Linked DNA regions of Homo sapiens. The protein of the gene in region 3 interacts with the protein of the main gene of each other region in a pairwise test. Each region holds a gene or a part of one and is shown on either strand. Other genes may lie near its edges.

The links.
Region 1: the proteins of SH3GLB1 (region 3) and RPS4X interact in binary tests that used the Homo sapiens proteins (3 or more experiments, as listed by UniProt).
Region 2: the proteins of SH3GLB1 (region 3) and GIMAP1 interact in binary tests that used the Homo sapiens proteins (3 or more experiments, as listed by UniProt).
Region 4: the proteins of SH3GLB1 (region 3) and TTYH1 interact in binary tests that used the Homo sapiens proteins (3 or more experiments, as listed by UniProt).
Region 5: the proteins of SH3GLB1 (region 3) and CCNC interact in binary tests that used the Homo sapiens proteins (3 or more experiments, as listed by UniProt).
Region 6: the proteins of SH3GLB1 (region 3) and MAOB interact in binary tests that used the Homo sapiens proteins (3 or more experiments, as listed by UniProt).
Region 7: the proteins of SH3GLB1 (region 3) and ATP5MG interact in binary tests that used the Homo sapiens proteins (3 or more experiments, as listed by UniProt).

What each region holds. Positions count from the first base shown.
Region 1 is NC_000023.11:72,271,542-72,274,248, reverse strand, and holds the end of RPS4X (small ribosomal subunit protein eS4, X isoform), read left to right. Parts: intron 1-276; coding exon 277-448; intron 449-859; coding exon 860-1,017; intron 1,018-1,476; coding exon 1,477-1,578; 3' UTR 1,579-2,207; downstream 2,208-2,707.
Region 2 is NC_000007.14:150,722,199-150,724,784, forward strand, and holds the end of GIMAP1 (GTPase IMAP family member 1), read left to right. Parts: 3' UTR 1-2,086; downstream 2,087-2,586. UniProt on the Homo sapiens protein: May regulate lymphocyte survival. Required for normal levels of mature T-lymphocytes and mature B-cells.
Region 3 is NC_000001.11:86,718,076-86,721,575, reverse strand, and holds part of SH3GLB1 (endophilin-B1), read right to left. Parts: intron 2,070-3,500; coding exon 1,941-2,069; intron 1-1,940. UniProt on the Homo sapiens protein: May be required for normal outer mitochondrial membrane dynamics. Required for coatomer-mediated retrograde transport in certain cells. May recruit other proteins to membranes with high curvature. May promote membrane fusion.
Region 4 is NC_000019.10:54,414,008-54,418,263, reverse strand, and holds the start of TTYH1 (protein tweety homolog 1), read right to left. Parts: upstream 2,801-4,256; 5' UTR 2,712-2,800; coding exon 2,586-2,711; intron 1,163-2,585; exon of another isoform or gene 1,129-1,162; coding exon of another isoform or gene 1-1,128. Other genes in the region: LIM domain-containing protein A-like, read right to left, coding at 1-1,128. UniProt on the Homo sapiens protein: Calcium-independent, swelling-dependent volume-regulated anion channel (VRAC-swell) which plays a pivotal role in the process of regulatory volume decrease (RVD) in the brain through the efflux of anions like chloride and organic osmolytes like glutamate.
Region 5 is NC_000006.12:99,548,161-99,551,660, reverse strand, and holds part of CCNC (cyclin-C), read left to right. Parts: exon of another isoform or gene 1-632; coding exon 633-668; exon of another isoform or gene 669-1,068; coding exon of another isoform or gene 1,069-1,092; exon of another isoform or gene 1,093-1,351; coding exon 1,352-1,443; intron 1,444-2,085; coding exon 2,086-2,153; intron 2,154-2,261; coding exon of another isoform or gene 2,262-2,272; exon of another isoform or gene 2,273-2,349; intron 2,350-3,276; exon of another isoform or gene 3,277-3,364; intron 3,365-3,500. UniProt on the Homo sapiens protein: Component of the Mediator complex, a coactivator involved in regulated gene transcription of nearly all RNA polymerase II-dependent genes.
Region 6 is NC_000023.11:43,767,451-43,770,950, reverse strand, and holds part of MAOB (amine oxidase [flavin-containing] B), read left to right. Parts: intron 1-1,532; coding exon 1,533-1,644; intron 1,645-2,234; coding exon 2,235-2,297; intron 2,298-3,332; coding exon 3,333-3,485; 3' UTR 3,486-3,500.
Region 7 is NC_000011.10:118,407,477-118,410,347, forward strand, and holds the end of ATP5MG (ATP synthase F(0) complex subunit g, mitochondrial), read left to right. Parts: intron 1-1,523; coding exon 1,524-1,622; 3' UTR 1,623-2,371; downstream 2,372-2,871. UniProt on the Homo sapiens protein: Subunit g, of the mitochondrial membrane ATP synthase complex (F(1)F(0) ATP synthase or Complex V) that produces ATP from ADP in the presence of a proton gradient across the membrane which is generated by electron transport complexes of the respiratory chain.

The DNA.
Region 1 (2,707 bases), on a different chromosome or scaffold from region 3:
GATAAAGTTGAGTTGAAGGGAAGAATTCCCAGGGCCCCATAAGGCTTAAAGAGCCTGGGAAACTGGAGTGGCATTTACATTGGAGGAGTGGAGGGCAATGGTGGATGTTAGGAGGACGAGCCTAGAGAAGGGCTTTATGCAACATACACTTGAGGGTGGAAAGAACGATCAGCGTCACAATTAATCTGCAGCAGTTAGGGAACCCATGGTTCCTGTATAGGGTTAAAAAGTACATGTGAGATGGATTGAATGTGGCTAACCCTTGTATTTTTCTAGTACAAGTTGTGCAAAGTGAGAAAGATCTTTGTGGGCACAAAAGGAATCCCTCATCTGGTGACTCATGATGCCCGCACCATCCGCTACCCCGATCCCCTCATCAAGGTGAATGATACCATTCAGATTGATTTGGAGACTGGCAAGATTACTGATTTCATCAAGTTCGACACTGGTAAGCATCCTCTGTGCTACCTGGGCACCCTCTTTAAGGCCTAGATCATTATGAATTGCACAGGGTCTGGGTATCTTTATTAAAAACCATCTGCTCCAATCGCCCAGGTGTGTTTATAGCCAGAGGCACAAATGCTCAGAATACTCATTTCTTTTCTTTAAATTGTTTGTTTTTTATAGAGGAGGGTCTTACTGTGTTGCCCAGACTGTTCTCGAACTGATTATAGGTGTGAGCCACCAAGCCTGGCCACAAAATTTCTTACGAGAGTCCCGGGAGTCCTAGCATAGGCAGCAGTTCCATATGAGGAAATTCAAATGGGGGGAAAGGAGGAATAAAATTTGTTTGGACCCATCTCTGAGCTGCTTGTCATTTGTTATATTGAGTTGAAGCAGATTATTTCTTCCTGCCTAGGTAACCTGTGTATGGTGACTGGAGGTGCTAACCTAGGAAGAATTGGTGTGATCACCAACAGAGAGAGGCACCCTGGATCTTTTGACGTGGTTCACGTGAAAGATGCCAATGGCAACAGCTTTGCCACTCGACTTTCCAACATTTTTGTTATTGGCAAGGTAAGTCTGGGTTTTCCTTCTCTCTAGTCTGAGGAAATATGTAAATGCAGGTGGCTGCTGGGATTGTAGCATCCAGGCTCCTGGCTGGCTCTGCTGAACCTAGTGCAAAGCCTCTTCTGGATAGGACTCACGCAGAGCTGGGCTGAGTCATAATGATTAGCCTTAGGTACTACTAAACTTTGACTCACTTGAATAAATGGTAGGTGCCTGCTATGCACAATAAACTTCTAAGACATTAATTCTGAAGGGCATACGGTGAGTTTCATAGGACAGCCCCAGAAACCCAAGCAGTGGGTGCTTTTGGTAACCAGCATCTGTGTCTTGCAACTGCCTAGCTGATGCCAAGCACTCTCACAAACAGGCTTCAGTTCTGTTAAGTGAGGTGACAAATGTAGCATGTGCCAAGCCACTATGAGTTGGTGTGTGGTGGGTTTTGATTCTGCTTGTTTTCTCTTCCAGGGCAACAAACCATGGATTTCTCTTCCCCGAGGAAAGGGTATCCGCCTCACCATTGCTGAAGAGAGAGACAAAAGACTGGCGGCCAAACAGAGCAGTGGGTGAAATGGGTCCCTGGGTGACATGTCAGATCTTTGTACGTAATTAAAAATATTGTGGCAGGATTAATAGCATTTTGGTTTTGTGGGTTGTTTTTTTTTTTAATTCAGTTTCCTGCTATTTTACTGTATAACATGAACAGTGATTAAGTTCTCAGGCAGGCTTAGGCAGTCTGTTATTGGCTGGGCTTAGTTAGTGGTGGGAAGTAGAAGATACCAGACTTGGGAAAGGAACAGCAACTAACCAAGGAGTAGAAAGAGCCAAGAAATCCCGGAGTATTTATCTCCCCCGCCTTGACTTGGCCAAGAACTTCTCTACACAGTGGACCCCTCTGCCCTGTTAAGTTCCCTTGGCTTTCTAAAAATCTGCCCTCATTTTCTTCTCCAGTCTGTATTGCACTAGCCCATCCACAAGCCTGGCTCATCTGTTTTTCCCACTCCTGTGCCCATCTTGCCAAACGCAGGATGAAAATCTCCAGTTGCCATTAAAGGTGGTCATAAATGGGCTGTTGATGTTGCAAAGCATTGCAGTTCCTTGGACTTAGTGCCCTTATTCTCCAGCTGCCGCTGCAGTCCTCAACTCTGTTTTTCAGAGGACAGAGATGTAGAACATAAACTTGTTCTTGCTTGTCCAAATGTGTCGGGTCATGTCAGGCTTGCTTACCAGTCTCAGGAAGATGTGCCCCTGCTTCATGGGGCCTGCTGTTACACACCTGTTCCTCAATCCAGTCCCTCCAGTCTCAGTGTCAATTATCCTACCTTGTGATTTCAACCTTCTCTCAACCAACTCTCTTGTTCCTGTTACCCTATAAAGCATGTCTTCCTGTTAAAAACGAAAACCTCCCTTGCCACCTATAGCAGGGCTTTTCAACTTTGATACTGTTAACATTTGGGGCTACATAATTTGTGGGCAGCTGTCCTGTTTATTGTGGAATGTTTAACAACATTCCTAGCCTCTATCCACTAGATATTCACCCCCCACCCCCTGAGTTGTAATACAAAAATTACTTCAGACACTGCTAAATGCCCTCTGAGAAGCAAAGTTGCCCTGTGTTGAGAGGTACTGCCTTGTAGATGCTGTATCTCAGGTCACCTTCATTTAGCACCTTGCACTTAACTTGCTGTAGACCACTCAG
Region 2 (2,586 bases), on a different chromosome or scaffold from region 3:
GAGGTCATGGAGACATGGGAAGCAGGTATTCACATTAGCTCTATTCAAGAGGAAGAGGAGGAGGGAGTGTGCGCAGGCGCCCTAGGGTCTTCCCCAGCACACGTTGGGAAGAAGGGGTCTGCAAGCATGCGCACAATTGCCAGCTCAGGCTAAGGACTGCAGGAGGTTCCAGGTGGGTTGCGGGCTTCGGGCAGGCTATGGTGAGGGGTCCTGAGGGCCTTGGTGACCGCTGCAGGGAGTTGGACTTTTTGAAGCGTGGCTCAAGAAAAACCCATGTTTAATTCCTGCCTTTCGCTTCCTCAGCAGCCTTTCTGGGCCCAGGCAGGGGCCTCGAGCCAGGGAAGGATCCTTTGATGACCAGAGGGGACAGCAGGGAGGGCACAGCGTGGTCGTCCACGGTCACTTGCGCACGAGCCAGTGCTGCTGCTGGTGTTAGACAACAACTTTTATCAAAGTGGTTTAATGTACAGCAGCAACAAAGCTGCTTTGTGGAGCAGGGCTCCCAATAGGCAGTGTGCCCAGAGTAGCAGCTCGGAAGCAGTACTGCAATCACATTTATACCCACTTTCAACTATATGCAAATTTAGGGGTGGATTATGCCAAAATTTCTAGAAAAAAGGTCGTAACTTCCAGGTCGTGGGATTGTTGCTATGGAAAGGAGCCAAAACTTCCAGCTGTTGCCTTAGCAATGGTAACCTGACGTGGCACTGGTGAGTGTGTTTTATGGAGAGACTCTTTCACCTCTTCCCTTTCAGCTTGTCTTCAGTGTGGTCTGGAGCCCAATCCCCACCTCCAGAGTCTAGTCCTGCCTCCTACCTCAGTAATAAAAAGTAGTAGTATATGGTTAATTGTCAAATACATTTGCAAAGTGTAATCAAAGATACATTACCAATCTGAATCTCAAAATGTGCTATCATCTTTGAATTTGAATAATGTATTATTAAAGAAGTTACAGTTTTCCTTTACATTCAATAACATTTCTTTAGTGGTTTTCTTTTTCAGATACTTTGATTATGATCTTTTTTTTTTCATCTTTGTATCCCCGTTATACAACCCAGTGCCTGGCATAGAAAGTGGGATCAACAAATGTTTGGAAAATGAATTGTAAAGTTGACTTTCCTGTACCTTTTTAATATTAGATTTCTAGCTACCAGACTTTTGACCATTTTCTAAATTTTCTACCATAGATAACAGAAAATTCTTTCGCGCAAGCATGTCATTGTATTAATGATATTCTCCTGCCCTAAGGAAATTTACTTCCCTTCAAGCACAGGGTCCCCCAAATTACTGTATTTCCACCCCTTTCAGCTTATTTTATCCTTTTCTCCTGCTACAGAACAGTTGGCATTCACCATTCCCTTCGGTAAAGTCTTTTTTTAGGCTGTGGCTTAAAGGTTGCTTTTTCCCCCATAGCTCAAGGTTAGGCCTTGTGACCTCACTTATGTAATTTGAGTGATTTGATAGCACAAATCAATTTTATACTTAAATTACAGCATAAAACAGCACTGCCTCCTGTTGGAAAAACTTGCTTGCTAATTTTAACCAGACACAGTAAAAATACTGTCCAATACCTCAAAAATTGTGTAAATATATATCCATTTCAATTGTCCCCCTTCCTCTCCTCTCCTTTTATCTCTTGGAAGATAAAAATGTATGGGTCCTGTGCTGATAATGTTTCTGTTCATATTTCTATGCCCTGGTACCTGGATCAGCTTTTGTTCTACACAAAAAGACTTGTATCTGGCTTATTTCTGAAAGCTAGTGTTGGCCATGATGAACTTTTAGAGCAAAAGATTTCAGGCAGAGTACATTCTTACATATTCTTACACAATCAATATTCAGTTCCAGCCCGCACAGTAGCCCTAGCAAATGCCAGTGCTCCTTCCAGAGATTCACCTATGGATTCAGTACCCCAGAAGAGAATTTCTGTAAATTCTTGGGGAAGCTATAGCTAGACTATGGCTCAACACTCATTTTTCCCCCATGATTCTTAATCTAACAGTGGCAATGTTGGCCTCTTCTTAGGCAACTAGATTCGGTTCTTGCTTATTCTGCCAATAAAATACTTTATTGAGATGCTTACAAATTTGTCCCCTCCTCTTTATTTCTTTAAGAAGTTATCACTCCATATACTGGATGTTTAGTTATAATTATTGGTTTGAGTCTTATTTTTATACTTTCAATCACATTCTTTGCCTAATTCTTCTCATATTTTTATATTTTCTTTCCCTCCTCATAATTCTCTTTACATACCACTAAGTTTAGGCACTTGGACTTTTTTTACTTTCAAAATGGTGTTATATTGTGCATATCCTCTTGACTTCATACGTCTGAAGACTCCTAGACTATCTTTTCTACTACATGCTAGCAGAATGTATCATGATGAACACTGAAGAGAATTGCATACCACTGCTCAAAAATTAAACACACACACTTGCATGCATGCAAACGTGCGCGCGCGCACACACACACACACACACACACCAAGGATAGACATCTCAATCTCAAGAAATAAAAAGGAAAGAAAGACTTTCTGACTTCCAGTTCTGCAGAAGGATCAACTCCAGGTTTTAAGCCTGAATTATC
Region 3 (3,500 bases):
GTAGAAAGAAAGGAAGCCCCAAGATCAGGGTTCCACTCCTAGTTTTACTTCTAATAAGCTTTAGCTCTAAGGATCTTAATCCCTTCATGTTAGGATAAGCTTTGATCTGACTGATAAGGAAGGTAATACAGATAGTAGTTAAGAGCTCCGTCACTGGATACAGACAGATCTTCATTTGAATTACTATACTAGCTGTGACTGTGGATTAATTATTTAACTTCTCCAAACCTGTTTCCTTGTCTTTAAAATGAAGGTAATATAATTTATCTTAAAAGCAGGATATAAATGAGAATTAATATGTAAATATATATACTATATAATGCTTAGCCCATGCCTGTGATACTCAATTTTTAGTATTAATTACTAATAAGGTAATAGGTTCACAAAGCCCAATTCTAATAACCAGGGTACATTCACTAGAATTACTAGAGGTGCAAACAGATTAAGCAGATTTAAAAGGGAAGAAAATCTAGAAGCCTTTACTAATGTTCATGCTCTGCTAAAACCTTCTTCAGCCTGGTGAAGGAAGGGGCTGCTGGGTTCCTTTCACATACCTTTATGATCCCAGCATCTAACTGAGCTTGGCACAAGTAGGCAATAAAACATCTGTTTAATGTATAACATTTTTCTAAAAATTAACAGTAAAATTCAGAAATAATTTTATTTTGAAGTTCTAAGCATTTTCAAACTTAAAAATTAGATTTTGAAGAACACAATGTAGAAGTTTCAAAGTTGTGTACCTAAAAAAGCCTGTCAATGGATTAGTGGCATTCAACAATATTTAGGTTATTTCTTTCTGACATAAAGATAACTACTAAAGCTTAAAATTCATTTAATCCTAGAATTTATAAACCATTCTGTAAATCAGAACTATGTGTAGAAATTAATTTAATCTACCTACCATTTCATATCCAAAGACCAGTATCTTGCAGATGTATAAAGAGAATTATTATTAGACATAAACAACAGGAAAAGAAGCTACTGAAATCTGTAACAGTCTCATGTTATGAGAAAATTAGAGTGACAATAAAGATGTGTATGTAACTTTGAGCTTCAGGGCTATACATTTAAAGTCTGTACAGCAACTAATAAAGCGAGTGTAACTAAACCACGGCTATAGAAAATTTGAAATACATAAGAGAAAAACAGAAATGAAATGTAATCCAAATATCCAGAGATAACAATTGTTAATATTTTTTGGTTACTGACATTACTGCAAAATTATAACAAAAGCACTGATTTGTTCAAGAACTACGTGCCAAGTACCTTTAACATAAAATAAGCCCTAAGAAAGCTTTTTTAAAAATGAAGAGACATATGCAAACAATAATTGCAATATCACAAGTATTATAACATAGGTATTGTAAGATCACTGGGAGAACAAGTGAAGAATTCATTAAACTTTTTAGAACTAAAAAAGATGTGAATTCTCTGAATAACTAAATATATGCTTGAATATATTAAATATTACATTTAACTGTATATATTTGCCTATATTTCTCACTTCATCAAAAATTTTTAACATAAATTTGAAGTTAAAACCAATTCTACTACTATGTTTTTTTTTTTTTTTTTTTTTTGAGACAGAGTCTCGTTCTGTGGCCCAGGCTGGAGTGCAGTGGTGTGATCTTGGCTCACTGCAAGCTCCACGTCCAAGGTTCACGCCATTCTCCTGCCTCAGCCTCCCAAGTAGCTGGGACTACAGGTGTCTGCCACCACACCCAGCTAATTTTTTGTTATTTTTAGTAGAGACGGGGTTTCACCATGTTAGCCAGGATAGTCTCGATCTCCTGACCTCATGATCCGCCCACCTCAACCACCCAAAGTGCTGGGATTACAGGTGTGAGCCACTGCACCCGGCCTACTAATATGTTAATGACATCTCTAATAAATCTAAACATAAAGATATCCCTTATTAGAACTTTTTGCATTTCACTTACCATAAGCTGTTCCTGGGCCAAACTCAGTCCCTGCATCAATCATATATTGTCCCAAAAGTTCTGGGTTGTTTATACGACTTGGAGCTTTTCTATCCAGTTTCTCATAAACAAATTCTTCTATCCTGGCATCTAGGAGAAAGGTTAAAATTACCAATGATTTCTAAAAAGCAAAACTAATTAGAAGATTGTTTTTTTCCCCCATCAGCAGCCATTTATCATCTCCTAAAGTTAGCATTCATTCAAGCACATATCTTAATAAATAATTTTTTAAATTTTATGTTAGACTATTATATAACTAAAAAATTATATTTTAGAAATTTGATAAAATATCTTGGCACAAAAGCATTTTAAAATAAAATAAAATTATTATTTGAGTATTCTACAAGATTTTAAGTTCCAGAAAAGGACTGATTAATTCACTTAATATTTATTGAAGGTGTCTTTGCCCTGTTTGTAGCATTTTAACTCTAATTTTTACTCTGAATGTACATTCATAATTTCAAAATCAGGATTTCTGGCTAGGAAAATACAGATATAAAGTACCTGGAAGAACCAAAGACTTACATCTGACAGCTTTAGCATGAGCATTTGCTCTCTCTTTTTCTTGCCTAGAGTCTAAATATAGACACAGGCGCTTAAGGCATAGAACAATCCAGGCTTGGAATAGTCTACAGACAGATCAGCAATATGATGCCTTGGCTTTAGTTTATGTTTAAAGTATACAAGTATATCTCTGAGCATGCATTCACTCAAAAGATTTCATCATTAAAAATAAGTTTAAAATACGAAAGGTTAAAGCAATAATAGAACATTAGAATAAATGGAAAGGGGAAAAAAACAAAAGCTGAATAAACACTTGGTTAGCAAAATGCTTAAGACCAAAGATATTAACATTTACAATGCTGTCCAACCTAGAGGTATTTCAGGACAAGTGAAAAAATGGCTTAAGTTTCCAGAAACAACGATTAAGCATAAATTGAAGCTAAGTCAAATAGGTTCCCTCTAAGTACCTCACATAGATTCCTACGCATGCGGAAGTTTCACACAGTGCACTGAAAATTTAAAAAATGAGCTGAACCAGTAACAGAAACATTTCAGGAGTTGGTAAAAGGCTTAGTTATAATACATAAAATAGAGTATAGCAATGATACTTGCTTTTGTGGTAGATTCTAGTACAAAATCAGAAGTTTTAAAGCAGAAATTAAATACCTTTAAATAGTTAAAACCAAAAAGAGCTTTTTAAAACATAACCATTTAGAAGATACTAGTTAAATTTCAGAACTTCATTTTGGCCCGGTGTGGTGGTACATGCCTGTAATCCCAGCACTTTGGGAGGCCAAGGCAGGTAGACCACTTGATGTCAGGAGTTTGAGACCAGCCTGGCTGACATGGTGAAACCCCGTCTCTACTAAAAAAAAAAATACAAAAATTAGCTAGGTGTGGTAGCGCATGCCTGTAATCCCAACTACTCGGGAAGCTGAGGCAGGACAATCACTTGAACCCAGGAGGCAGATCTTGCAGTAAGCAGAGATTGTGCCACTGCACTCCAGCCCAGGTGAA
Region 4 (4,256 bases), on a different chromosome or scaffold from region 3:
GTTCTGCGGTGGGCAGAGCCTTGCAGAATAACAGGGCTCTCCACGTGGCGGGGATTTCACAGCTGACCTGTGCGGTCCCAGAGGCCCACAGTGGCCCAGGGGGTTTGCACTGAGCCCCGGAGCATGGAGGGACAACATTGGGATCAGAGTCACACCTCTGGACTTGCCAAGGCTGTTTCCCCTAAACCACGGTGTTTCTGCCTTTGTCCACACACATACACACACACAGTGGCACAGTGTGTGTGTGTGTGTGTGTCCCAAGTGTGTGCAGTGTTTGTGTTTCTGGTTGAGACTGGATGTTTTTATCTTTGGGCTGTCTCCATGAGATGAGGGGGCACCTGAGTGTGTCTCCTGGGTGCACTGCTGTCTGCAAATGAGAACATCTGTGGGCATTTGTGTGTTCTGGGCACAGTTCCTTGGGCCTGTGAGTGGGTCCGGTTGTGTGTGTGTAACAGTGTGGATGAGTGTGTGTGTGGATGCGTGACTGCATGTGAGTGTGTGTGTGCACATGAATGCTATAGTCAATATGTGTGTGCATGTGTGTGTAGATGTGAATGGAATGTACGTGTGTGTGTGTATGGGAGTATAAACGTGTATGTGACGGTGCATGCATGAGTGTGTAAGCATATATATATAAGTGCAGTGTGTGCTTGTATATGGGAGTAAATGCTTATACATGTGTATGTGTGTGTTGTGAGTCACTGTGCGCAATGTGCGTGTGCATATGTGTGATTGTGTATGTGTAAGTGGGTATATCCATGTGAGTGTATGCATGTGTCTATATGCGTGTGTTGTATGTGGGTGTGAGTGCATAGCGGGAGTAGTAAATGGGTATGTGTGTGTGCATATGTGAGTGTGTAATGAGAGTAGGTGGGCGTGTGTGTGTACCTGTGCATATGTGTGTGTGCATGTGTGTAATGAAAGTAAGTGGGCGTGTCTGAGTGTGTGCATGTGAGTGTGCATGTGAGTGTGTAATGGGAGTAAGTGGGTGTGTCTGAGTGTGCCTGTGCATATGTGTGTGCATGTGAGTGTGTTGGAATAAGTGGGCGTGTCTGGGTGTGCCTGTGCATATGTGTGTGCATGTGAGTGTGTAATGGGAGTAAGTGGACGTGTGTGTGTGCTGTGCATATGCCAGTGAGTGTGTGCGTGTGGCTGTGTGCCTCCCCCGGGCCAGTGTCCCTGAGGCCCTGGCTGTGTCTGCAGCTGTACCCACGGTGGTCGCGTCCCTGCAGGGGTCCCCCTTGCCCTCCTCGGCTGTGGGGCTCTGCCCGCGCATCCCTGCCACCCTGACCCTGACCCCCGACCGTGGGGGCGGAGTGAGGCTCCCCCAAACCCGTGCCTCTGGCGGTGACTGGGGCCGCGGATCCCCGCGTGCGGCTTCGGGAGGTCTCCGGGCCAGAGCGGGCGTGAGTCTGGGCCGAGGCCGGAGCCGGTGGAGCGGCGTTGTTGGAGGTGGCCGTTGTGTAACCGCGAGGCTGTGGGCGAGGGGACGGCGGTCCCCGTGTGTGGGGAGAGGGGGCGGCGAGGAGCAGGCGGGGAAGAGCTGCTCAGGGCTGTGCCAGCCGTGACCCAAATAGCTCAGAACACAGCACTCATCCCCTCCGCGCTTTTCTGGGACCCCCTCCACGCCCCCTGAGCTCTCCAATCCCAGCCCCCTTCTCCCAGGAGCAACCCAAGACGGAGCCCAGGGGCTCAGGCCCCATCAGCAGGGCCAGGACCCGTCCTGGGGCCACATCGGGACTCCCAGCACCCCCACCCGTCCCCAGCTCAGCCAAGCCTTTCTCCTCATTAATCTCGAAGTCAAGGACTTGAATTAAACTGGGTCAGGGGACAGCTCTTTCGCCCATTGGAGCTGCCCCGAGCCGGGCCCCTTCCCCAGGGACACCGGCTTCTGTGAGGTTCCCACACCGGCCCCACCCTCGGGACCCGGGTCTGTCATCCCGAGGCTCCCCAAACCCAGCCTCATCTCGGCCCTCACCCCTGCAGCGCCCTGACCACCCCTTCTTTCTTGGGACGGGCAAGAAGCTTCCTCTCCCAGAGCCCCTTCATTTTCCAGCCCTGGTCCTCAGCCCCTGAAGCCCCCTTCCCCATTTCAGACTCTCAATCCCATCCCAGCACCGCAGCAGCCAGCGTTTTCCCCGCCACCGTTATCAGGTCCGCTGTCTCCTGGGTCCCACCTTATCTGGGACATATTCACCTGCTCTGATCCTGTGGGGCAGGGTCATCTTTTAGGGCAGGAAGAGTAGACCTACCCTCCCGATGACCCTGGAGGCCGGCTTCCCAGGCAGGTATCAGACACCCGGGAATCCGGGCCCCCCTCCCCTCCTCTCCATGAACTCAGGGGTGCAGGTCCCCAGCCTTCCCTTATTTAGAGAGCTCGAGGTCTGGACCCCCAGCGCGCGTCCCAGGAGAACCTCCAGGCATGGGCGCCCCCAGGCTCCTCCTCCCTCCGAAACCCCAAAGTCCGGGCCGGCCCCCAGCCTCCGGCGGAGCTCAGGAAATCTGTGACCCAGCCCCCTTCTCCCTCGGGACCCAGGAGCTCCGGCCCCCAGCCCTGGCCCCCAGGCCCTGGCGCCCGGTCCCACCTGCTGGTATTCCTGCTCTTGGGGCGCGAAAACGCTGGGCACCGGGCGGAGCTGGAAGTCGGCGCGGGGCAGCTGGTGGAGGAGATGCACCCAAGCTGAGGGCCGGTAGCCCGGGGGCGCCCCCATGGCCCCCGGGGGAGGGGGCAGCGGGGCGGACGCCGGGGCTGCGGGAGCCTCCGGAGTCGAGCGGGGCGCGGGCGGCGCGGGGTCTGGCTGGGCTCAGGGGAGCGGGAGCGGGGGGGAGGCAGGGGGTGGGGGGCGGAGATTGGGGGGAGGGAGGCGCGGGCCGGGCGGGGACGGTGCTGCCCCTGGTGGTCGCGGCGGGGACTGCGGGAGTCGGGAGGCCCCCAGCGCTCCGCGCCCCACCCCGGTCGCGGCTCCCACCTGCTGCCCGCGCAGGTACCGCGCTGCTGGCGTCGGCGGCATCCGGACAGCTGGCTTGCATCGCGATTGAAATCAGCCCTCCTTGTCCATACGAGGCCACTCATACTGTTATTTCACCTAAAACATAATGATCCCTTTATCCTTATGGAGAAACTTCATGTCTGTGTAAAGGTTGCTAGTAAGTACAGAGCGTTTTACAAAGAACGGCCAATTCCATGGATAAGAAGTCCTCTGTGTACGAAAGTGCTCCCACCTGTAAAAGATGCCCGTATTTGTGTAAAATCTCCGTCCCACTTTTATTCCTAGCCTGCATAAGGACACAGCTTCTAAGCACAAACACTCCTATGTGTAGAGGCTACTCCAGAATGTATGGAAAAATCCACACGCCTGTGTAGCAAGCCTTCATGCTGCATAAGGACCCCTTCTACCTGCATAAGGACCCTGGTCATCTATATAGGGGCCCTTCCCATCCTGTAAACTGACTCGGGATTACTTCGGTGTATACAAGGACCCCTGCCCCTTGGCATTCGCCATACAGTTACAGAGTATTTTTCCAGCCACTCCCCATGTTACATCTCACTGGAATCCTCCGATGCCACACCGATAGATGGGGAAGTGCCAACCCTGGGAGGGGACCTGGCCACCCTGACATCATCACCCAGACTGTCACTATTGCAGCCAAAACTAGGTGCTCAGGAATCTGGCCCCAGGGGTCCCCTCTTGCTGTAGGGCAGGGTGAGACTTTGCCATCTGGAAACCACACACGTGGCCTCTCTTGTGGGAATTGGGATGAGTGGAAGAAAGGGAGATTAGTTCTCCACTTAACCCATTTCCATATTTTGCTCCAGATTGGCAAGAAAGGGCTAGGGAAAAGAGGAATGCTGGTGGTAGCGGAGGTGGTGGTGATGACGATGATGGTGGTGATTATGTTGGTGATATGATGTCATGATGATGGTGATGGTGGTGATGGTGATGATGATGGTGGTGGTGGTGTTGATGATGGTGATGGTGATGATGATGATGATGGTGAAGACATGATTATGTTGACATGTCATGATGATAATTATGATGATGATGGTGGTGGTGATGGTGGTGACGGTGGTGATGATGGTGATGGTGGTGATGATGTTGGTGATGGTGATGGTGGTGGCGATGGTGGTGGTGGTGATGGTGGTGATGGTGGTGGTGATGATGGTGGTGATGGTGATGATGTTGGTGATGGTGGTGGTGGTGGTGATGGTGGTGGTGATGTTGGTGATGGTGGTGATGATGTTGGTGATGGTGGTG
Region 5 (3,500 bases), on a different chromosome or scaffold from region 3:
GGCGATTATCAACCCTGGCTGCTCATTAAATCACCTTGGGAACTTGTAAATAATACTGATGTTGGATCCTTTCCAGAACAACAAAATCAGAATTTTCAGCCTTGGGGCTCCCAACATTGGTACTGTGTAAAAGGTCCCAGGTGATACTACTATTTAGCTGGGATTAAAAACTAATGGAACAATATGAAATATAAGGTGAATTTCTATTGACATTTTAATAGGTATGTCCTTTTTCCACCTTGCAAGGGATTTGTTTATTCTCTTTAAGTTACATTTTTTAAATTAAGTAGAAATAATTGTATTTTTGCATTTGCTGAGTAGAAAGTATACTGGAAAATCTGATGGTTTTACAGGATATTTTAAATAAAAGTGAGTAATAAGAATGATTGTGAGAAGCTGGCTTTTCCTTACAAGGATTAAAATCCTTATAATCATAATTGCATTTCTAATAGTAATTTTTTATTGCAGATATTTATTTTAATATAAACTATGTTTATTGTCTGGATTTTTAAAACTTTTTAGTAAAAATTTTTGATAAATTACTATAATGTCTGTAATTTATGTTAGATTAAGTGGACTTATCTAATTTGGTTTCATATTGACATTTCATTGATAATCTTTGTTTTAAACAGATATTAGAATGTGAATTCTATCTGTTAGAACTAATGGTAAGTAAATCTTCTGTGATTAATAGATTAAAACATTTTTAAATTAAATGAAGTTGGAAATTATTTAAAGAAATGATTTTAGAGAGGTACATTTTAAAACCATCCACCTAATATGTGATGGTGAAATCATGGTAGCCTATTTATATTAGCACCTAGAGTCTCTCTGAAGCCTGTAAAATAATTTGTATATCCTACTTAGGATGGGAAAATTTTTCTGTTCTATAGTAAGTAACTATAATGAAAGGATTACAAACAGACAAGTCAGGACATTAAACCACCATAAATTATGTGCACAATTTGTGTGTGCGTGCAGTGTTATTTAAAGATAGATTATGTCTTTGGCAGAATTCTGCTCCTCCAGTTGGGAATTATGAATTTATAGGCTAATAAGAGGTTTCAGTGTGTTGCAGATGTGACACTTTGAGTCTCTAAGGGAATGAATGGATGCTGACTGACTGCCAACCGATTTATCAAGGTATATTCCAGAGAGAGCACTGCCTTCACTATTACGGTAGAGTTTAGGGCTGTCATACTGCTAGCTTAAGAGAATAAAAGGGAAGCAAGCATGAGTTAGTGAAATTCACTTTGAAATACACAATTACAAATCAGTTGGGTAATGATAACATTTTTGTGTTGTAATAAATCTGTTTTTTATACATACACATTTTTTAAACTGTTTCTAGGATTGTTGCTTGATAGTGTATCATCCTTATAGACCTTTGCTCCAGTATGTGCAGGACATGGGCCAAGAAGACATGTTGCTTCCCCTTGCATGGTAATTAGAACAGAAGTTATTAATAGTGTAACATGTTATTAGATAGGAAGGTTGACAATTAAATATGAAGTTAAGTATTTTTAAAGTCATTAAACTATTGCCCCAAGATATTTTATGTTGAGCAAAATACCACTTGTTGAATTTTAATAACTATAGTGGTGTAAATGCCAAAATGAAAACAATCCTAAATTATCTGTTCCATAAATATACCTATTAAAATTTAATTTTATACAAAACACAGACTGTTAACATAAAAATTAAGACTGAAGTTATCTTTAAAGTAATCAGAATACTTTTTGGTAGTCTGCAACATACATATAAATTTACTGTATAATTTCTGGTTTTTTAATTTGATTTTTCTGATTTTTAAAAAATTAGAAAAATGTGTTTATAATTTGTTATGAGATTTTGAAATTTAAAATATATTTAGCTGTAATTTTATTCATTGATATGTGCTTATTTGTTGTCACATTCATGTATCCATCCTTTTGCCTTGATGTTTTCACTTTTATAGCTGTGCTTCAGTAGTATAAAAGGAAATAAATGTGTGCAAAGATGGGAAATCTGGCCCTCTCTGGAGGAAATATACAATCAGATGAGGTAGTTCTGCTTTCAGTAATAATATGATTTACATTTCTATAGGAGGATAGTGAATGATACCTACAGAACGGATCTTTGCCTACTGTATCCTCCTTTCATGATAGCTTTAGGTATGTAAGCATGGTGTGCCTTTATGAGTTAAATTGTTATAAACTTATTTAGGTCATCCTAAACTAAATTTCACCCTATTGTACTTTATGTTTTTATGTTCCATGAAGTAATAGACTAATCCTTGCATGTGAGCTTTCAATAATATGAACTGCAACTGTCATAAATCAGGATTATTATTCCCCCACCCCCTTTTTGGTAAGTTTTTTTTTTTTTTTTTTGAAACCATTCAAAATAGTTTTAATCGGTGTCTGAATAGAACATATTTGTTTGTTTAGAGGGAAAAGTTCAGAATTAAGCCAGCTAATATTAGTTGTAGCATGTAAAATAATTGGGGCTTTCATATCCTGAGCCCAAACAAATACTCAGAGGTTGAGTAAAGGAGCATCTGTGGTCCATAATGCTTGGCTGGAGGAAGACGTTAAGTACATTCATTCTACAGTCTGTGGAAAGCAGTGCTGTAATGGGTGGAGTCAGATAGTCCTAGGCTTAAACTTTACCTCCTTTACAATTGTGGGAAAATTATCTGACCTTTCCGTGTTTGTTTCCTTAATTGTAAAATGGAGAGAATACTAATAATTCCACTGAGCCGTTTGAAGAATTAAATGAGATAGGTTGTAGAGCACCAAATAATGCCTGTTATATATTGGGCACTTGTTAATTTTTGTTCCTTTTCCTTCTATTGATTTTTTTTTTTTTTTTTTTTTGAGATGGAGTCTCACTCTGTCTCCCAGGCTGGAGTGCAGTGGTGTGATCTTGGCTCACTGCAACCTCTGCCTCCTGGGTTCAAGCGATTCTCCTGCCTACAGGAGGATTATAGGTGTCCACCACCATACCTGGCTAATTTTTGTATTTTTAGTAGAGACAGGGTTTCGCCATGTTGGCCAGGCTGGTCTTGAACTCCTGACCTCAGGTGATCCACCCTCCTTGGCCTCTCAGAGTGCTGGGATTACAGGCGTGAGCCACTGCACCCCAGCCCCTTCTATTGATTTTTATAACTCCATCCTCTTGATTTTCCCCTCTTATTTTCCATTGGTTTGTCTTTGTTCAGTTGTTCAATTATTCCTTAAATGTTGATGTTTCTTGGCCTTCTTACATCAGGGCTGACAAATAGGTTATACTTACACTTCTGTATTACTGGCAGTTCCCTGAAAGGACTGGATTTGAAAGGATTTTGAGTGGTGTCCTACCCAGTGGGTAGGAATACTGGGATCTGCATAGGTAGGAAGGAAGGGATAACAGAACATGTGTCACATCTTTGCCATCCCTGCTGTCTTCTTCTTGGGTACTTTAACTGAGATTCATGGCTTCTACTATCACTTACATGCCGAAACATTTAAATCTCTTTA
Region 6 (3,500 bases), on a different chromosome or scaffold from region 3:
GACAGGATGAATAATGGCATGTTGACGGTGCTTTCCTTATGGTATTTTTGTCAGAGCAACAATGAACTGCCCCTCTTACAGGCCAAGTGCTATGACATTTCAGTCCCTTGTATAGCATGTGGGCAGTCTACTAACTATTAAATATTATAGGGTGATGATACACCAGGCAAAGAATATAAGATAAAAATAGAGACTTTGACATCTGTTAGACATGGTTCAAATCCTGGCTTTGCTATTTTCTAGGAGTGTGGCTCTTGGCATATCACTGAACATTTCTCCAAGCCTCAGTCTTCTCATATGTAAAAATGAGATAATGATAATAGTAGCTACATCACAGAGTTCTTTAATAGATTGAAGAAATAATGCAGTAGAGAGAGGAAGTATAACTAAGTGGTTAAGACTGTAGGTTCCAGAGTCAGATTGCCTGTGTTCAAATACCAACTCTGCTACTTACTAGCTGTGACCGAGAGCAAATTACTTTGTCTTTGTTGCTGGTTAGGTTCCAGGAAGCAGACCCTGAAACAACGATTAGCAGACAGGATATATATTAAGGCATGCCCTTAGGATTGGCAGCTGTGGAAGGGAGAAGGAAGCAGGAGTGGGCATAGGGAGAACTTGGGCTGCAGTGCAGTTCCAGTGAAGGCCTCAGCTGACCCCAGAGGAAGTTCCAGAACTAGAATGGCCCTTCAGAGTGGGAGGTCTCAAGTTGGAGCTTGGGAATCAGGTATTTACAGCCCGTGGTGATCAGTCACTGGATGCAACTGCTATTGGAAGGAGGCATGACCTAGTAGGTAACATAGTTTTTTTTAGCAGAGGCAATCTCCAAAGAGGGCTGACATCAGTAGGCCCTCTTCTGGCAGCACTCCCAGCAGCTGGGAATAAGTCTTTCATTCTTGAAGGGGGCCTGCGTGGTTCATCACAATGTCCACCACAGTCTACCTCCATATTCTTATCTGCAAAATGGTGATAATAATAGTACCGACCTCACCAGTACAGGCAAGTGTTCAAGGAATAGGAGTTATGGAGCCATAGTCAGACTCTCAGATTTGTTAAATGTTACTGATTGAAAGGGTCTTAGAAATCAGTGGACCATTCCCTTTAAGAGGCAAGGAAGCCAGAGCACAGTGAGAGTAAGTGATTTGCCAAGTTCACTAGTGGAATAGCCAGTGGGGAATTGGGGGCATGTATCACCTTGCCACAGAGCCAGTGAGCCATAAAGGGAGCCATGTGACTGGGCTTACACAGTCCCTCACTTCATGTTGATGAAGCAAATACATAATTTACGTCCATTAATGTCAGCTCCTTCACCTGCAACTCTTGGTGCAGGAGTGAACTTTGGCTTTTATTCTATTTTGTTTGTGACAAGGATCATGTAAGAGCTGGAGGAACCACATAAACATTATTCCAAAATTGCCAATGTCCTTCTTGATTGTTTAGAATCTGTGGAAGCTGACCAGCATTGGTCTTTATGGGAAAACTTTTCTCTGACTCTCTGAGACTGACCACTTTTGCCTCTTTGGTTTTGTTCCAAGGGTTCTACGCCAGCCAGTGGACAGGATTTACTTTGCAGGCACCGAGACTGCCACACACTGGAGCGGCTACATGGAGGGGGCTGTAGAGGCCGGGGAGAGAGCAGCCCGAGAGGTAGGGTCTGGGGTCATAGATTATGGGGAAGGAGGCAACTCATGGTCCTGACATGTAGGTCAAAGATATCTGAGAGCCTGGAGACCAACTCTCCAGTAACCCCCATCTTAAGACCCATAAAATACTATTTTAACTATTGTCTCAGGTGAAGTGAACACCTTAGCCCGAAGTAATAATGAAAATACCTAACATGTCACCCGAAGTAAAAAGAGCCCATGGGGCAAACGATCAACCTGACTATACTTGAAAGGTAACCTAGGTCTGATATTCTAGAACCAAACATGCTTCTATTAGGACTCAAAATTCAATTCATTTCACAGGAAAGATTTTCTGACAGTTCCTCTGATGTCATCCCTATTTGAGGTGTGTTCATAACTATTAAAATTTATGGTAAGCCTAATGATTGGAACCTCTTATACCACAGGAGAAAGACCTTTTGGCGCCTCTTAAAGGTTGTATGGAGTGTTCTGGCCTTTACCTTGGTGTTTTTGATGGATATCTCAAGAGACAGTTACTTAGTCCTTTAGGGAGCAGATTAGAAGAAAGATGGTGTCACTTTTGCTATTTGCCAGTGTGTTCTTTCATTTCAGATCCTGCATGCCATGGGGAAGATTCCAGAGGATGAAATCTGGCAGTCAGAACCAGAGTCTGTGGTAGGCTATGTTTTATTTCATGAAATTAGATATCTTTTCTCTAAACCCATTATTTTCAAGAAGAGCACACTTGTATATATTCACATACCTTTTCCTAAGTGATTCAACTAAGTGATTTAAACATGAATGTTTAAATAAGTATCATGGGTTAGGGTAGAGGTGAGAGATTTAGATGAACTTTGATAAATTTGTAGCTGTCACATTCATTACAGATTATTAGGAAAAAATATTTTTTGATGAGGAGGGAGACATTTCTCGGAGACTTCTAAAAATAATAACTCAATAAATGCCTGTCAAATAAATATCTAGCCTGGTGATTCTCCACATGAGGTAGGAAAAGAAAGGAAAGTGTGTTAGCATCTCCTGTCCAGGGACAAACAAATGGAATGAAATGGAGAATATTTAGATTAAAATTTTATTTTTAATATACTCATCATTTTTGTAATAAAATCCTAGGAAGTTTTCCTGGCTGGAAGGAGGGATGCATAGAGGTTAGAGTGCAAACGCACTTTAGAGGACAAAGTCACAAAGGTCAGAATTATTGCTCTATCCTTTTAAGTGTGAAGTCAAAGAGAATAGGCCTGCCACTCCACAGTCATTCTCTTAGTGCTTCTGCCAGGGATGGGATTGTGGGCTGTAGGGACCATTGATTCATTTACTAACAAGTATTTATGGCACACGTGTTCTGTATCAGCCATTGTGGCAAAGGCACAGCAGCATTTTTGTGGAGCTCAACATCTGGTGGAGAATGCAGATGATAACCAAAAAGTACAGAACAGTGAAGAAGACATGCTGAGAAAAAATGCAAAAGGAGAATGTCATCCTAGGCTGGGGTCTCAGGAAAGAAAGCCTCCCTGAGGAAGTGAAGGGTCCAGTGAGGAAGACAGGGTAAACAGTATAAGCAGAGGGAACATCGTGTTTACTGGTCTAGACGTTGGCAAGAATGGGTCATGTTCAGAGAGCTGGAGAAAGTACAGACTTTCTGGAATAAAGTGCACAAGCCCTGTACTAATACCCAATGTTTTCTGAACCTAGGATGTCCCTGCACAGCCCATCACCACCACCTTTTTGGAGAGACATTTGCCCTCCGTGCCAGGCCTGCTCAGGCTGATTGGATTGACCACCATCTTTTCAGCAACGGCTCTTGGCTTCCTGGCCCACAAAAGGGGGCTACTTGTGAGAGTCTAAAGAGAGAGGGTGTCT
Region 7 (2,871 bases), on a different chromosome or scaffold from region 3:
TGTCACAGTCAGGAAGCTAACACTTCTTATATATAAGATAAAAATACCAAACTGGGTTATTGAATTGTGTGAAGATAAAATCTAAAAACTGTAAGAATTAGAACTTGCAGCCATACGCAGTCACTTCCTGCCTGTAATCCCAGTACTTTGGGAGGCCAAAGTAGGAGGATCGCTTGAGGCCAGAAGTTCAAGACCAGCCTGGACAACATAGCAAGGCCCTATCTCTATCCAAAAAAGTGAAAAAAAATTGCCAGGTGTGGTGGCATGTACCTGTAGTCCCAACTACTTGGGAGGCTGAGGCGAGAGGATCGCTTGAGCCCAGGAGTTAGAGGAGGCAGTGAGCTCTGATTGTGTCACTGCCTGGGTGACAGAGTAAGACCCTATCTCTTAAAAAAAGGAAAAAAGGCTGGGCGCAGTGGCTCACGCCTGTAATCCCAGCACTTTGGGAGGCCGAGGCGGGCAGATCACGAGGTCAGGAGATCAAGACCATCCTGGCTAACACGGTGAAACCCCATCTCTACTAAAAATACAAAAACTTAGCCGGGCGTGGTGGCGGAAGCCTGTAGTCCCAGCTACTTGGGAGGCTGAGGCAGGAGAATGGCAAGAACCTGGGAGGCGGAGCTTGCAGTGAGCCGAGATCGCGCCACTGCACTCCAGCCTGGGTGACAGAGCGAGACTCCATCTCAAAAAAAAGAAAAAGGAAAGAAAAGAACTGGAACTTGGATTTTATTTGCATGATCCAAGCACAGAGTACAAAAAGCCTAAACAATTGCTAGTTTTAGAGCCTACATCCTGGGAAGTGTGGTTGTTTTTCAGAAGACTTCCATAAATTTCTGGTCTAATTTGATGGGGAAAATTCACTTCCAGAAGTGCTAAAAGGAAAAGGTCCAGTTTTGTTATGGAAAGTTATTTTTTCAACTAGAATTTCAAGATCCATATTATTGCTCCATGTATTAATAACAGTGCTTTCCTGAGCCATATGTGCATATTTCTCTTTGGGACAACAAAATGTTGATATGAATACCAGATACTTAGTCAGAGTTAAGTCAAATACTGAATGAATAAAAATGAGGTCTAAAGGGGAAGACAGCACTTCATCTTTCAGCAGATTTTCTTTTGCCAGACAAAAATGTCTATTCAGAGACTCGGCCTTCCTATAGCCATCCTATCTAAATGCGCCAGCTATATCCAGGATGTGGATTGTTTTAGGGCTCATAAAGTGTCTCATAAACTTATAATGAAAGGGTTAAGTCAGTTCAGGTCTTTAAAGAATGCTTTGAAAGAATTTATATAAGCTTTGACTACTTACCTTACAAAATTGAAAGTTCAAGGGTTCTCAGCAGTTGAAGAGAAGTAATGTTAGTAATTCTCAACTTTGACTAAAACTGCCTTCTAGTTTGAATAGCATCTTTTATGTTCTTTGTCTCCTTAATTCTGGAAAAGAATAGTTTCAAATATATATATATATATATAATTATATATATATATAAAAGGTACCTTAAAATGTATGCTTCTTTTTTCAGGAAGCTGTGCTGAATGGTTTGGTGGCCACTGAGGTGTTGATGTGGTTTTATGTCGGAGAGATTATAGGCAAGCGGGGCATCATTGGCTATGATGTTTGAAGACCAATCTTTAACATCTGATTATATTTGATTTATTATTTGAGTGTTGTTGGACCATGTGTGATCAGACTGCTATCTGAATAAAATAAGATTTGTCAAAACTCAGTGTTTTCTCCATCAGATACTCCATGAAAGGTCACAATTTCTCTTGATATTAAGCTGGGTTGTCTTTAAACAACCCTAAATACACGTCTGTTTAGCCCGCAATTGGAAAGGATATATGTGGCAATATTAACCTGGTACATGAATATATGGGGATAACATTTTAATTTGAAGGTTTGGAATATATATATTTAAGCTTTATTTCCAGAACAGTGAGGGTTAGGTCTTGGGAAAACTATAACTTGCCAAAGTAGAAGAAATAGTAGTACCATATGCCAAAGTGATAGAGATGAATCATGTCAGTAGTTAGAATAACATTTCAACTGTTTTCTTTGCTAAAATCACAGAAAGACCCTATTGACAACATCTATGTCTGTAAAAATGTTAGAGTACTTGTCATCTTGAATATAGCCTCCCCAAGAGAGAACAGGGTGGTATTCTAAGTATGTTTCTTTGTAACATCTTTAGCAGTAGGACAGAGCCATACATGTGAAATCTGATTTTTATGTGTGTTATTCGTTTGTCTGGTTTTACTACCTTTGCAAAAACAAAATACCCCAAAGATATTTAAACAAGGTTATAATTTAGCATCTTCCCTGGATCTAAATAGTATATTATATCCTGAAATAAATGAAATGATTGCTATAGTCTGTCTTCTGGAGCGATTTTATTGGGTATATAGGAGAGATTGATCATTCCTTAGCTTTTCCCCGGGATCTTAGAATCCTTAATTGACTCATTGGTACTTTCCTAAATCCACTGTTATTCTTGCAGCCACAGCAAAACATGCAATACCAACTGATGATAACCAAAAGGTGGTTGCATATTTATTACAAAAGCATTATGGCTCACAATACAGTATTAATCCTTTAATAGTGTTGAACCTTTATCCGGTCAATCCCAAATTTACCCACTGCATTTAGAACACTGCTATTTTAGCCTAATAAACGTCACAGCTTATCTAAGTGATAGGCAAGAAAGTCTCCATAGAGACTGCCACGCTGCTAAAATGTGAAGTAATGCCTAACTTACTCCTGCAATAAACAGGTGGTCAAAACTGAAATGACCTCTTTTCAAAAAGTACTCAAAAAGACTGATATGAGAAAGGCAATCAGTTTCTTTTTCATACAGTGCATGATTATTCAAA